Linked DNA regions of Homo sapiens: region 2 is linked to region 1. A link means that fine-mapping ties the variant in region 1 to the expression of a gene that starts in the linked region. Tissue or cell type: whole blood. Region 1 holds a variant in brackets; the other region holds the start of a gene. All regions are shown on one strand. Distances are between the middles of the regions.

Region 1 (8,105 bases):
GATTATAGGTGTGAGCCACCGCGCCTGGCCATGAAGAAACACTTGTTCAAGAAAATCTACAAAAGTCAGTAAGAACATTGGGTCTGTGGTATTTGAACTAAAAGCTCCTCCATCCCTCCTTTTTTGCAGCTAGTGAGATAGAAACTTTACTCTAGAGGGTGTAGCCAAGAACACAGGGCTCCAGCTCCATGTATTCCACCTCATAGCCTCAGTCAGAAGGTTTTCATCCTAGGAGGAGGAGTAGCGTACCAACATTTCTCATTTTGCCTCAGATGCCTGTCACTGAGGCAAAATTCTAGGTAATTGTGGCTGAGTGGTGGTGGTTCCTTTCTTTCACCCAGTCCCTACTCCTAGGATGGAGACTTGACCTTGGGCAAGGCACTGCTGAAAATACTGGGGCTCTGATCTCCTTTACCCTTGCTTTTCAAGCCGAGAAGCCCTAAGTCTACAGCCTCCCTTCCCGTGGGTACTCCACTTCGTAAAGCAGGGATGCCATTCAGATAAACACACCATTGTCCCCACTCTAGCTGTAGAGAGTGGCTCAGATGTTTTATCTGGAAGCAGAAGTAGGCTGTAAAACAGGTAGCTCCTAATCTTTTCCTAAAGGAACAAAGTATGGAGAAGCTCAGGAGTGTGGAGAAAGTCAAAAAAACTGCGGAGGTTGTTGTGCAAAGCAATAGGGAAGAGACTGGTTAGATTCACTGGAGATGCAGGATAAACTAGTAGGCCAGCTAGTTTGCTGGAGAGAACCAGGAAAAGAAGAAGCTAGGAGGAGCCCTTTGGTATCAGAACAACTCTCAAACACTGACCTTGGGAACTAACTGTCCCTTTAGAGGGACCCAAATTTGATCTACTCAGTCTGTGGAGCAATTTATGCCTCAGGGTGTTATTAAAACCAGTAGAGCAATCAGCTGGAAATTAGTGAAGCTTTAACAACTAGATGTGGTCAAGGAAAGATACACTCAAAGAAAGTCTTACAAAAATCTTTGTCATCCAGGATGACTGTGGGCATACCCAAGGCTGTGCCTTCTAATGAGCAATATCACATACTTCATACTTGAAGTTTGAGGGCAAACAGACTTTGCAAAAATAATCCAGCTGGTTACTAAACAAATGAGCAAATGACAATAACAAGCCTAAGGTGGAAAAGGTGGGACCAGTAGTACTCAGAGTTGCTAAAATGTCTAGTTTCCAACAAAGAATTATGAGCTATGCAAAGACACAGGAAAGTATGACCCATACACTGGAAAAAAAGCAGGTAACAGAAACTGATTGTGAAAGTGACCAGATGTCACATTTAATAGACAAAGACTTCAAAGTAGCCATTATATATGTTCAAATAACTAAAAAACTATGATTAAAGAAGCAAAGAAAGGTGTGTGATAATGTCATGTCAAATAGGGAATATCAATAAAGAGATAGCAATTATATATTAAAAAAGAAACAAATAGAAATTCTGGAGTTGAAAAGTACAGTAACTAAAATGAAAAATTAACTAGAGGAGTTCAATAGGCTAGAACTGACAGAAGAAAGAATTCATGAATTTGAAGATAGATCAATACAGATTATGCAATATGAAGGAGAGAAAAAAGACTGATGTGTTGGAGAAGTGTCAGACACCATTGAACACACCAGCATATCAGAAATGATTAATAACAAGGTTAATATAACAAAAGATGCAAATATGCTCTTTTCTTCTCAGATTCTTTAAAAGACATTATATAAAGTAATAAGTATAACAATATAATGTTGAGTTTGTAACATTTGTAGACATAATGTGGATTACAATAAAATCACAAAAAAGGGGAAAAGGAACAGACTTATATAGGAATAGCATTCCTGTATCTCACTGGAATTAAGTTGGTATAAATCAGAAGCTGATTCTGATGAGAAGCATATTGTTAGCCCAGCTGGGTGCTGTGGCTCACGCCTGTAATCCCAGCAATTTGGGAGGCCAAGGTGGGCAGATCACAAGGTCAGGAGATCGAGACCATTCTGGCTAACATGGTGAAACCTTGTCTGTACTAAAAATACAAAAAAAAAAAAAAAAAAAAATTAGCCGGGCGTGGTGGCGGGCGCCTGTAGTCCCAGCTACTTGGGAGGCTGAGGCAGGAGAATGGCATGAACCCGGGAGGCGGAGCTTGCAGTGAGCCGAGATCGTGCCACTGCACTCCAGCCTGGGTGATAGAGTGAGACTCCGTCTCAAAAAAAAAAAAAAAAAAAAAAGGAAGAAGAAGAAGTGTATTGTTAGCCCAAGAGTAACTGCTAAAGAAAAAAAAAGTATAATCATTAAGTTATAATGCTACATTTGAAAATATTCACTTAATGCAAAAGAAAGCAGTAAAGGTGGAATAAAGGACAAAAACACATGAGACATATAAAAAACAAAAAGTAAAAATAAAACATGTAAATCCAGCTATATCAATAATATTAAATGTGCATGGATTAAGCAATCTAGTCAGAAGACAGACTGGATTAAAAAAAAAACAAGATCCAATTATATGGTGTCTAAAGGTGGCACACTTAAGGTTTAAAGATACAAATAGTTTGAAAGTAAATGGATGGAAAAAGAAATATAATGCAATAAAGAAAAGATAAATGTTTGAGGTGTCAGATATGCCAGTTACCCTGTTTTGATCATTACACTTTATATACATGTATCAAAATATCACATGTATCCCAAAAATATGTACTACTTTTATTAATTAAAAATTACATATATGCACATATAAATACATATATATACGTGTATACACATATATATATGCATGTATACATATATATACATGTACACATATATATACATATATACATGTATACATATATACATGTATACATATACATGTATACATATATACATGTATACATATATATGTATATATATATAAAAATATGCAAAAGGCAACTATGAGAAAGCTGGAGTGGCTACTTTAATATCAGCTTTTTATTTACTTTTTATTTATTTATTTGTTTATCTTTGAGATGGAGCCTTGCTCTGTCACCCAGGCTGGAGTGCAGTGGCACGATCTTGGCTCACTGCAACCTCCGCCTCCCAGGTTCAAGCAATTTTCCTGCCTCAACCTCCCAAGTAGCTAGGACTACGGGTGTGTGCCACCATGCCCGGCTAATTTTTTTTTTTTTTTTGAGATGGAGTCTCACCCTGTTGCCCAGGCTGGAGTGCAGTGGTGCAATCTCAGTTCACTACACCTCTGCTTCCTGGGTTCAAGCAATTCTCGTGCCTCAGCCTCCTGAGTAGCTGCCCGCCACCACACCCAGCTCATTTTTGTATTTTATTAGAGACGAGGTTTCACCATGTGGGCCCGGCCGGTCTTGAACTCCTGACCTCAAGTGACCCACCCACCTCGGCCTCCCAAAGTGTTGGGATTACAGACGTAAGCCACCATGCCAGGCCTGAATTATATACTTTAAATAGGTGAATTGGATGGTAGTGAGTAAAACTTGAAAATAAGAATACCAGTTTTATGAGTAACAACTAATGGATGCAGTTTCGGTTTCTTTGCAGTTCAGCTTGTCCTTAGAGAATAAATTCCACTGAGGACGTACAGTCAAAATAACGTGAGCTAAAAGTCATTTGAAGTAATTCTTTTTTCTCTGTGGTTATGTTACCAACTTGATTGTTAGTTATTGCATTAATTGACTTTTCCTATACTGAAACAACAATTCCAGAATTTTAGTAGCTTATAATGATAAACATTTATTTCTTGCTCAGGTTCTGTGAGTCCACTCTAGTGGTTCTTCTCTAGGCCCCAGGTTCAGTTCAGGTCTACCTGTGTGTCTTCTCATCCTGGGACTTCAGTTGAAAACACAGCTCCCATATAAGATAATGTAGGTCTTGTGGAGGGCATGGGAACACAAGAGGGTTGCTAGAATTTGCAGCGACTCCTAAATCCTTTGTGTGGACTGGCACACTGTCACTTTTATCCATATTTGTTTGTTTTGCATAAAAGGTTAAATTACGT[T/TTTGTTGTTGTTGTTG]TTGTTGTTGTTGTTGTTGTTTTGAGACGGAGTCTCCCTCTGTTGCCCAGGCTGGAGTGCAGTGGCGTGATCTAGGCTTGCTGCAAGCTCCGCCTCCCAGGTAGCTGGGACTACAGGCGCCCGCCACCACACCTGGCTAATTTTTTGTATTTTTAGTAGAGATGGGGTTTCACCGTGTTAGCTAGGATGGTCTCTATCTCCTGACCTCGTGATCCACCTGCCTTGGCCTCCCAAAGTGCTGGGATTACAGGTGTGAGCCGCTGCACCCAGCCAAATTATGTTTTTTACTTATGTGAGTTTGTAATGACACCACCACATTCACTATCCCCCAGTTCTTCCTCATTTTGCCCCATTCCATATTTTATCTTTCCTTGTCCTCGTGACAATATCGGTTCCCAATAACACTACTGTATGTATTTATTCTATTCTACAATACACACAATATAGTTTAAAAATTAAGATAGTAATATCACTACTAATAACATTATATGAAGAGTTTAAGATATTTTTAAATTTCTTTTGCTTTTAGAAAGGTACCACTAAAGATGTCCATTCAGAAAACTGTTCAAGAATTATTTGAATTATATTCTGTGTGTGGTTATCAAGTCAGTAGGTTTTTTCTTTTTAAAGATGGGGTCTTACTCTGTTGCCCAGGCTGGAGTGCAGTAGCACAATCATAGATCATAGCTCACCATAACCTTGAATTTCTGGACTTTGCCTCTGCCTCTCACCTCTCAGCCTCCTGAGTAGCTGGGACTATAGGCACCCATCATCACGCCCACCTGACATTTTTTTTTTTTTTTTTGGGTAAAGACTGAGTCTCATTATTTTCCAGGCTGGTCTTGAACTCCTGGTCTCTGGCCCCAAGCAATCCTCTTGCCTCAGCTACCCAAAGTGCTGGGATTACAGATTGAGCCACTGCGCCCAGCCCAAGTTGGTGGGTTGTCTTTTTTTTTTTTTTTGAGACGGAGTCTCTGCTCTGTGGCCCAGGCTGGAGTGCAGTGGCATGATCTCTGCTCACTGCAACTTCTGTCTCCTGGGTTCAAGCTATTCTCGTGCCTCAGCTTCCTGAGTAGCTGAGATTACAGGCACCCACCACCACACCCAGCTAATTTTTGTATTTTTAGTAGAGACGGGGTTTCACCGTGTTGGCCAGGCTGGTCTCGAACTCCTGACCTCAGGTGATCCACCCGCGTCAGGCCTCCCAAAGTGGTGGGATTACAGGCGTGAGCCACTGTGCCTGGCCAAGTTGGTGGTTTTTTAAAGAAGATAAAATACAGTTTGAATTCATACTGATATTTACAATTCAAATTAAGGATTATAAGGTTTTAAGTTTCATTATTCTTATATCTGTGTCTCCTATCTCCCATTGTGAAAATACTGATTCCCAACAATACCAATGTAAGTATTCATTTGCAACTATAATACCCGCATAACAGTACCAAGATAACAAACAGTACCAACAGTGTTGATAATTATGATTACTGAAAAAAATTCAAAGTATTACTGAAAACAAAGTATTATGAAATGGATAAGTAGTGCAGTTAAGCTAATAGTGATAATCTCTCAGTTATTTCAGCTGCCAATGAATTTCTTTGTGAAATCATATTCAAAGTTTTAGAAAAAATGTCGAAGGTCCTGTTCAAGCTTAAAACTATACTTGGGCGGGCACAGTGTGGCTCACGCCTGTAATTCCAGCACTTTGGGAAGCCAAGCCGGGTGGATCTCCTGAGGTCAGGAGTTCAAGACCAGCCTGGCCAAAATAGTGAAACCCGGTCTCTACTAAAAGTACAAAAAATTAGCTGGGCGTGGTGGCAGGTGCCTGTAATCCCAGCTATTCAGGAGGCTGAGGCAGGAAAATTGCTTGAACTTGGGAAGCGGAGGTTGCAGTGAGCCGAGATCGTGCCATTGCACTCCAGCCTGGGCAACAAGAGCGAAACTCTGTCTCAAAAAAAAAAAAAAAAAAAAAACCCTAAATCTATACAGTTGAAAGCAAAATAACTCATAGGATAATAAATGTATGTAATAAACCAGATAATAGGTGCTCTGAGAAGTTTTGAGTATATTTAGTCTTTTATCAAAGTTTATTGGCTTATTGCAAATCATGCGTTAACTTTCTGAGTTGGAGAGAAAGGCTGATGAAATTATTGTCGTAGCTAGATTTTCTCTTTGGATTGGTAAATGTTCTGCATCAATGCCTGACACTGAGGCTGCCAGCGGAAAGCTTAGCCATAGCACAGAGTAGAATATGAAAAACTAGGGTGTGTCAAGGCAAAGAAGTTGGAGATTGAAGATGTATGTGCTTGAGCGAAACTCTAGTAGTAATGTCTTTGTGTTCCAAAGTTATTGGTAAATATAACAGTAGCAAAGAACCATTTTGTTGCACTAATTAAATTAGTAGTCTTGAGGATTAGTTATTGGAGAAGGATAGAGGTGATCTAATGTCTCTGATTTTGCTAATCATCTTGATGTAGTAGAATTCCTTTATATAGCATTTGGTGTGGTGGCATTGTCGAAACAGATAAGAACAGCTTTTTACTAGGTAATAATTGTTTTGTCATAGAGCATTTGATTTACCATGTACTGAATAATTAGCAGTTTTATAGTTGGGGTCCTATTCCCTTTTTTCTTTTATTTTTTGTTTTTAAGAGACGGGGTCTCTCTTGACCATACTAGACTCAATCACCTGAGCTCAAGCGATCCACCCACCTCAGCCTCCGCAGTAGTGGGACAAGAAGCGTGTGCCACTGTGCCCAGCTTATTGCTTTTTGTCTATTGCTTTTTTTTTTAATCCTTATAACCTGCCTCTATCAATCTATCTTAAAATGATGTATGAATGTTATTAAGAGTGAATTTATTTTTCTTTTTTTCTTAGGAGCAGCCACCATATCCTAGCTACAATTCTAACTATTGGAATTCTACTGCGAGATCTAGGGCTCCTTACCCAAGTACATATCCTGTAAGACCAGAATTGCAAGGCCAGGTATGGTTTAAAAACAGAGACTTTCTGAACTTTTTCTTAATGAATAGATTTATTTTCAAAACCTGTGCAGATTTTAGAGCAGTGATGAGTGTGTGTTTTTTTTCTTTGCTTTAATGGGCTCCATCAATCTCATCTTAATGTTTTTAGCTCAGAGATAAGGAAATATCTAGGCAAATATACCTATAGCTTGAGGCATAATAAATTATTTTCCAGGACCCAGAAGGAACAAACATAAAATATACTTATTTTTGAAAACTTTACTGATTACAGACATTTAATTTAAAATATTTTAAAATTATAAAAAGTACAGAAAATATATACATTTTAAATCTAGCATGCAGGGCTGGGTGCAGTGGCTCACAGCTGTAATCCCAGCACTTTGGGAGACCAAGGCAGGCAGATCACCTGAGGTTAGGAGTTCAAGACCAGCCTGGCCAACATGGTGAAACTCCATCTCTACTAAAAATACAAAAATTAGCTGGGTGTGGTGGTGGGCGCCTGTACTCCCAGCTACTCGGGAGGCTGAGGCAGGAGAACCGCCTGAACCCAGGAGGCGGAGGTTGCAGTGAGCTGAGATCACACCATTACACTCCAGCCTGGGCGACGAGTGAGACTCCGTCTCAAAACAAAAAACAAACAAAAAAACCCCACGAAAATCTAGCATGCAGATTTGTCAATTTCTGTTTGCCACATTTGTTTCAGATTTTTAAGAAAGAAGTAAACCAAATACAATTGAAGCCCAATGACACTTCTTTTCATTTACTGAAATTTTATTTATTTATTTATTTGAAACAGGGTCATTTTCTGTTGCCCAGGCTGGAGTGCAGTGGTATGATCTCAGCTCACTGCACCCTCCTCCTCACAGGTTCAAGTGATTCTCCTGCCTCAGCCTCCTGAGTAGCTGGGACTACAGGCACACACCACCATACCCAGCTAATTTTTTGATTTTTTTTTTTTTTTTTGAGATGGAGTCTTGCTCTGTCGCCAGGCTGGAGTGCAGTGGCATGATCTTGGCTCATTGCAGCCTCCGCCTCCTGGGTTCAAGTGATTCTCCTGCTTCAGCCTCCCAAGTAGCTGGGACTACAGGCATGTGCCACCACACCTAGCTAATTTTTGTATTTTTAGTAGAGATGGGGTTTCAC
Region 2 (8,092 bases), 79 kb after region 1:
AAATATCAAAACAATAAGAATCCCCAGGCTTCTGTGCAGTGGAAAGTACAAGTTTGTCTTGAAATGGTTTATGGCATTCTGCATCAGTCAGAGGAGGATAATACTGCCGATAGCAGACATAGGCAAATGTCATTCCAATCATGGATCCAACTAGTACATCTGAAGAGAGTGGAAACAAGGTCTTCTCTTAATATTAGGCTCCTAAATCCTATTACATACACATAGCATAGAGGACCTGGCCCTCCAGGATACTCTACTGTGGGGCTAAAATAACCTCAATTCCAGACTTATGATTTCTAAATAAAATCTTTTTATTCTCAATTTTATCATAGTTACAGTATTATCATTGTCAGGTTGCTTTCTGAACACCAAATCAAAACACATCTTAAGTAAGTATAATAAGCTTTGTTCAGAGTGTACTAAATTAGAATTTTTCTAACTCAGAAGAGTAACAAAGGTCCACTTATTGCTATTCATCTGCCCATTTTCACCATTTAAAGGGTCCTAGAGGAAGGAATAAAGTATTTTAAGAGTTGCTTCTCGCCGGGCACGGTGACTCACGCCTGTAATCCCAGCACTTTGGGAGGACCAGGCAGATGGATCCCGAGGTCAGGAGATTGAGACCAGCCTGACCAACAAGTGAAACCCTGTCTCTACTAAAAATACAAAAATTAGCCGGGCGTGGTGGCATGTGCCTGTAATCCCAGATACTCAGGAGGCTGAGGCAGGAGACTTGCTTGAACCCAGGAGGTGGAGGTTGCAGTGAGCCGAGATGGTGCCACTGCACTCCAGCCTGGGCGCAGAGCTAGACTCTGTCTCAAAAAAAAAAAAAAAAAAAAGAGTTGCTTCTCTTTGCAAAAAACTAGTTTATTTAAAAATTTAAAATAGGGTTCCTGAGGACCTGTGGGCAATACCTCCAGCGTTTTTTTTGGAATTGTGTCAGGTTCAAGCCATTCTCCTGCCTCAGCCTCCCAAGTAGCTGGGATTAAAGGCGTGTGCCACCATGCCCAGCTGATTTTGTATTTTTAGTAGAGATAGCGTTTCACTGTTGGTCAGGCTGGTCTTCAACTCCTGACCTCAGGTGATCCACCTACCTCACCTTCCCAAAGTGCTGTGATTACAGGCATGAGCCACTGCACCTGGCCTCAATTTTTGTATTTTTAGTAGAGACGGGGTTTCAATATGTTGGCCAGGCTGGTCTCGAATTCCTGACTACAGGTGATCCGCCTGCCTCAGCCTCCCAAAGTGCTGAGGTGTGAGCCACCGCGCCAAGCCAGGTGTTCTGTAATTTGGATATTTTACTTACTATAGCATTCAGCTTAAATTTGTTTGGTTTAATTATAATTTTATGTTTTCTTGAATTTTACTTATGTTTTTGAACAAAAGTCCTATGACAATGAACCTGATTTTTAAGAGAGTAAATTGAACTTTGAGGTTTTAAATTTCCTGTAGATGCAGTTTAACTTGAACTTACAATGCTTCAAATAATGGAAAAATTAGGATGTTTATCTTTGGTAAACTCTTTTTGTCTTATCTTTCCTATAATTTTAAATGTACTTAGTACAGAACCCAGACCATCCATACTCATTAATTTGTTCATTCAGCAGATATTTAGTAAGCATCTCCTCTGTGCTAGGTGCTAGGAATAAAATGAGTGAAATATGCAAGCTTCCATAGCCTGAGTACTTTGCTTACCTTGCCAGTGATGCTTGTAGTCACATGTGCGGGACAGTGCAATCACAGCTGCAAAAAGTAGAGGTGACAGAAAGGCACAGAACCTCCAAGATTTCCCACGGCCTTGTGGTGTGAAGCAGTGTAACTTCCCTGCCAGGTAGAAGGACGCAAAGGCCAGACCAGCAAATGCAACTGGAACAAGAAAAACTTTTAAGTGGTTTGTCTTTTAAAGGAAGCTACCTCATTCATCCCCACATAGGAGGCTAGGAAGCATGAGTATGTTTTTATTTATTTATTTTTTGAGACAGTCTTGCTCTGTCGCCCAGGCTGGAGTGCAGTGGCACCATCTCGGCTCACTGCAACCTCCACCACCCGGGTTCAAGCGATTCTCCTGCCTTAGCCTCCCGAGTAGCTGGGACTCCATGTGTGTGCCACCATGCCCAGCTAATTTTTTTATTTTTAGTAGAGTTGGGATTTCACCATGTTGGCTAGCCTGGTCTTGAACTCCTGGCCTCAAGTGACCTGCATGCCTTGGCCTCCCAATTGCTGGGATTACAGGTATGAGCCACCACACCCGGCCATGAGGGTGTTTTAATCCTTTTTTGTGTATACTTATAGTGTAAGTCATTGTGAAGGAAAGGGAAACAAAAAGAAAAATGAAGGACTTAGTGCCCCAAAGTTAATGTTTTATCTGAGTATAGTTTTCGGTATACTAGCTATATGTATCAACTTGTTGATGCTTTAGTTTCCTCATCTATAAATGGGACTCATAAATACAATAGTCCCCACCTCATTGGATTATTGTGAGCTATAATTAGGTAAGAAATGAAAATGCTTCAAAGTACCTGACACATAGAAACTCTTCGTTAAAGGTATTTTTATTGCTAGTACAAGATTGCAGGATCTAGGCAAATAATATAACAATTAAATGTGCAAATCTCATGAAGGTAAACTACCTTTCTGTTCTGTAATATTTACCCAAATAGTCAAGGCTCAGACTTGTTAAACTGTGGAGTTACTAAAGAAGGGGGGATTTTCCAAATTGTAGAAACAAGAGTAGTCAGATTTTCCCATCCCTACTAGCTTTCTAGGTTAAATTCAATGATGTGAAAACAAGCATAGGGTAGAGTCCATATGATATTCATACAGGAAGAATGTCCACTGGGGAAGCTCTTTCGGCCCTCATTCACCACGTCCTTATCCCCTGTACACATCAAGTCAGAATGGGCTAGCCCATCAGGGAAGCAGCGGTAGAAGAAATCTGGGCGTGGCCTGGAAGAAAGCAGCATGGTTGGAACGTAAATCATTAACTCCAGAAATTATTTTTCAGTTGTAGCAGACATTAATAATCCTGTTAACTATTGGTCAAATAGTGCCCCAGGCAAAATAAGGTAACTGGCTTAGTATAGTCACCACACTAAGAGAAAAGCCTTTCAAGGTGAGCATTTAAATTAGGGGAAAAACGCCCATTCCAGCACATGATTACTTTTTAGGGCAAACAGCAAATGACACTGCAGCTTCAGGAGGTGCTCAAGAGGACACTGACCGACTGCTGTGGCCGTTGGTGGGAAATGCTGTTCAGGCAGAAAAGAGCCCAGGTGTCACCTGGAGGACTGAGGTATGGGGAAGGGAGTAAGCGTTGAATGACAAAAGAAAAATCAGAGTGAAGATAAAGGAGAAAAGAATGAGAAAGACGTGTGGTGGACACCATTAACCTCTCTGTTCTGGTGGGTAAGGGCTGAGGCAGATGCTGGGGTGGTTAGCTGTTGTCACTTACCTCCCTACGATCAGTTTTATTGTGTTGGTAAAGACGCCATTCAGAGCCAGGGCAAGGCTGGCAGCTGCAAAGCAAAGCCATTAGTTGAAAGGATCTGTCTAGGAGGAAAGGTATGGTCATGGCCTCGTTATGAGAGCAGCCGTGCTGTTTCTGAGATGGATAGAATCCAACCAGGCCTGGGCACAAAAATAATTAGGGTCCTCAGTGATCACTCTTTTGTAGCCGAGAACTTTTGTACTAGGCCAAAGACATTTCTGAGGTACAAATAACCCAGTGCATTTAGGCACAGGGCTGCCTGCCGTGTAGCCTGCGTAACCAAGTCCCTGCAGTGCTATTTTCCTCTCCCGCGGGGATAGAGTTCCTTTAGGAATGCAGAACTCAGTGGCCTCCACACAGGCTCACCGTGGCTGAATCCCACAACGACCTCCTAGGTTCCCAGCACGAAGAAACCGGCCCGAAAGGGCTAGCGCTCACCCAGGCAGGCTTGTCTGCTGTCTCTTGTGTCTGCCTTCTTGAGAAATTTGGCCAGGAAGATCAGAGACAGTGGAGAGAGAAATGCAATAACCTGAATCAGAATGTCAGAGGTTAAAAACAATCCAAAAAAAAGCCACACTCGTGCTCCTACAGGAAAGAGGGATGTGACACAGCAGGACTCACTGGAGCTAACATAAGGTCTCTGAGTGCGCGTAACCGGGCGCCAGGCAGCGCCACCAGTGAACAGCAGCGCCCGTGCGGCTCGGGCCCCGGTACCTCAGGCTGAGGCACAGAGCGCCCGGGAAAACGTTGTCTCAGCCCAAAGAGGCTCGGACACCCTCCTCTCTCAATCAGGATCTTAAACACTCGAGCCCTAGGAGGCGGAACCCAGCGCACAGCAGCGGAGTGGGCAGTGGGTCCCTACAAAGGCCGTCTCGGGGTGGAAAACGCACAGGTGCCCGCGGGAAGCCGGGTCATGGGGAGGGAGGAAAGACGATCTTTCTCCACGCACAAACATCGGCTTGGTGGGGAAATACTCCGCCTCCACGTAGGGGTTCCGGTAGAGCCACATCTCCTCCGGCTGGATGAGTCTCTGGAACGGGGGGAGCAGCTCCGTCACCCTAGAGGGGAACAAAGAAGCGCAGAGCAGGTCGCCTGGCTTCCTCCCCGCTTCCCCACTGCCCGACCCGCCGCCCCGTGCCGCCCGCCTGCCTGGGAAGCGGGGCCGCCCGGGCCCGGCCGTGGATCTTTCTTACAGGAAGGCCGCGAACAGCGCGAGCCGCACGCCCACTTCGGCCCCAAAGGCCACCGCCGCCGCCGCCTTCCCCATCCGGCCGCGAGCTCCGAGCGACGCTGCGCTGACGTGGCCACCTCCGCGGGGAGGGCCGGGCCGGGAACTGGGCACCGCCCCCTCTCCCAGTTGCCCGCGCTCCGGCGGCTCCCCAGGAAGACGGCCTGGCGGCTGTGCCGAGGGCATCGTCTGGCAAAGGGTACGCAAAGCCAGCGGAGCTGCCCTCTGGTGCGTTCAGCAGGGAGCCAGCGCCCCAGTTCCAGCCGAGTAGGTCGGCGTACGGTCCATCATCAGCAGCTCGTCTCCACGGCCCAACCACACCACCGCGGGGAGCAGCCTTCTCCCGGGACCTCGCCTCTAAATGGAAAACCAAACAGCCCGCTCTCAGATCCTCGTTCCTTAGCAACACAGCCGCATTCTGCAGGAAGCTACACTACCTGAGGTTGGCTGGATTGTGTCATTTAGTCCTCCCACCCAGGATGGCCTCCTGCCCAGAGTGTTGTAGCAAAAAATTATTGGCAAAGAACAAGCCCACATATTTAATTTGGAACATACAGGACAATTTATTGAAGTCAATCTCAAGCAAAATCTGAAATCAGTGGAATGTCATTAAAAACCTTTCCAAATTAATCCTCACGGAAGCAAAAAACACATTGGAATTCCAAAGTATTTGTAAAATAAAAAAGGCAACATCTCAGTAAATATAATGTACAAAAATTATATGTTCCTACCAGCACACACATCAGTAAAGAAGCTTAAATATTACAGGCAACCCTAAATACACTATAACTAGTCAACAATAAGCTATCTATATACAGGTTAACCAAGCTTTACACGTTTCACACTATGCAATAAAACATAGGCCAATCAACAAAATCCTCAAAATATTATATATCTTGAAGTCTATGTGGCAACATCAAGTCATTATACAGTAATGCCCTAGTGGAACACCCCCAGGGAAAATTAACACTAATCCCTTAGTGTCAAGAGCTTCTAGCCAAGTCACAGAAACTCAAAAGAGATTGACTTTAGTGAATATTGATGCTTTGTTATTAAAGACTCAAGTCTCAAGTGATTTAGGCAAAGTAATGGTTCACAGGATCTACAAAGTTTATTACAGATAAAGTACAGAAATAACCAATCTACAAAGATCATTATCATAAAGAACACGAGAAAATGAAAACGGAGTCTGTAGGTATCTGTGTTTGTTGTGCAATATCACTCAAATGGGTACAAATGAGTTTCTCATATCAATTCCAAATATACACATACCCTTGTATATAAAAAATGATATTAGCCAGTTGTAATACTCATTTAGCATCTTGATTATTAGTGGCAATATAATTATCTTAACATAGGGCATGTAACAGGACAAATGAGATAAAATAATGACAACCAAGTAAGTTTTATCCAGTCCATTTCTAAACTGACAAGAATACCTTATTCAATACCTTATATAGGTCATCTGACAGATACTTGAGGGCTGTTTGCACACATCAAGTGTGTTGGCAGGCAGGGAGGGGAGCAGTAAAAGCTGAGGGTGCTTTCTCACTAACTAGCAGATGCAGTAATGCCACATAAGAAAACTAAGGACTGAATAAATGACTTTGGCATCTATTCTATTTTCCCTTTTTACTTACATGTAAATTACTTTTACAGCCTACTGAAGGACAGGCAATTCTCATCCCCCTCCCGCTTCATACATACGTGCCACAAGCACCCAAACTTGTCACTTATGCAATGGACTGACCAAAACAAAACAAAAAACAGAAATGTTTTTTGAAAGACACGGATTACCCACATTTTGGGAGTGTAACGTAAGTGCAATTTTTTGTTTTGTTTTTTTCCCTACATAGACATAGTAAAAGGAAAGAAGATGTGCTTGGGGAGAGGGTTGACAAAATGACAAAATAAAGAATGTACATAAAAAGTATTTGTAAAAATGCTGGTATCTCATGCAGGAGTCTCTTCCTCAAATGTGTTCAATCAATCTGAGCTATCTACTGTGAACACTCTCCCATTTGCAGAACTTCACCTTTAATCCACGCTAAAGAGGATAAGAGACTAGGCTATTTATTTTCAAAACAGTTTACAAAACAATGCTTTCTACTTCATAAATGTAAAAAGAAACTAAAATAAGGAGAATCTGAAGAGTTTCAAGTACTTAAAAAACCTGAATTCAATGAGGCAGAGGTCTCAATGTTAAAGTGACTATTTCGTACCTGTGGTAAACATTATCCCCCCCCTTACCCTTTACCAGGAGAAAGGGGGTTCCCTTTCTCCTGGTACCCCACCCCAGGTAAAAGTTGGTGAGATTTCAGTATATACACATTTCCAACTTTTCAGTATTTGTTAATTCATTGCAAAGCTGTCTAATTATAGTATTCCCTAGTCCATCTGAAAATGGAAGCAAGTTCTACTTTTTGTTTTACAAATAACCAGAGACCAATTCTAGGTGGCCCTAGGCCAAAGGAAAGTGTTTCCATTCATCAATTCATGTCTGCACCAACTTGGACAACTGGGGGAGGCTGGATGCATCAGCCTTGTGAAAAGTAACTTTAGTCTACGCTGCCCAGAAATAAAGCAACTTTCCAATGTCCTTTTTCTCATATGGAAGTATAGAATGTCAGCTTCCCAGCTGTGAGGGCTCCATAGCCACTGTTTTCTTATCTTGTTAAGAGGACATGGCATGTGGCAGCCAACACCTTGACTTCAAGGTGAATGCTAAAGGAAGAGCTTTGTATTTAAAATGAAATGAAAGACAAGCAACAAGTCCTGGGCAGTCCAGAGATTGTATTCTCTACAGATGGCCTGTTTGCAAACAGTAGGTCTGGGTTTGACCTATTGGAATACACCATGCAAGAAACTACTCAAAAAGGAAATTCCACTTCATGAACCAGGAAAGTTGTCCAATAGCCTGTCCCATCTGAGGGTCCTTTACATGATTAGATACTCAATATCTCAGTTCCACAACGTTATTTACAGACATGTTTTCAAATATTTTGTGTAAATGGCAGAAGGGAGCTGGGAGCAGTCCCCCTGCCTCCATTACTTTTTTAGCTTTCACATATGTTCTTGACTTGTACAGAAAATCCCAAATTTTAAATGATTCCCCAACTCAGCCAGTTCTATAGATGAGGCCAGATCATTTTTGAGAATTAAGATAAGAGTGGGAACTTGTTAAAACAAAAATGAAAATAAAACCCACCTCACTCCTGTATCTCTCCCTGATTAGACATTAAAGAGGTGAATCACTGCCTCTGGCTGCTTCAGCCTTCCAGGAATGAAGAGCCATCCACCTTGCCCTTCTCAGCCAGCCACAGGCAGCTCTTCTGATTCTTCCCTCGCAGCAGTGGCGGTCCAGCCCCTCCCTCCCC

The links. PIP is the estimated chance that this variant, and not a neighbour inherited with it, causes the effect.
Region 2: it holds the start of PLPP5, and the variant in region 1 is fine-mapped to the expression of PLPP5 in whole blood (INTERVAL, PIP above 0.99).

Annotation. Positions count from the first base shown.
Region 1 is chr8:38,185,833-38,193,937 of GRCh38, forward strand. It overlaps BAG4 (BAG cochaperone 4), which reads left to right. Exons shown (of 5, transcript NM_004874.4): 2 at 6,856-6,963. Among named protein-coding and RNA genes, the nearest start is that of BAG4, 13 kb to the left of the region's middle. The variant T/TTTGTTGTTGTTGTTG (reference allele first, on the strand shown) is at 3,981.
Region 2 is chr8:38,264,446-38,272,537 of GRCh38, forward strand. PLPP5 (phospholipid phosphatase 5) reads right to left here and starts at 4,779. Exons shown (of 7, transcript NM_001102559.2): 1 at 4,681-4,779; 2 at 4,437-4,545; 3 at 3,926-4,016; 4 at 3,452-3,515; 5 at 2,822-2,946; 6 at 1,696-1,866; 7 at 1-159. The coding sequence starts at 4,754. It overlaps NSD3 (nuclear receptor binding SET domain protein 3), which reads right to left. Exons shown (of 24, transcript NM_023034.2): 24 at 5,259-8,092. It also overlaps a transcript of DDHD2 not described here. RefSeq lists a silencer at 4,498-4,977.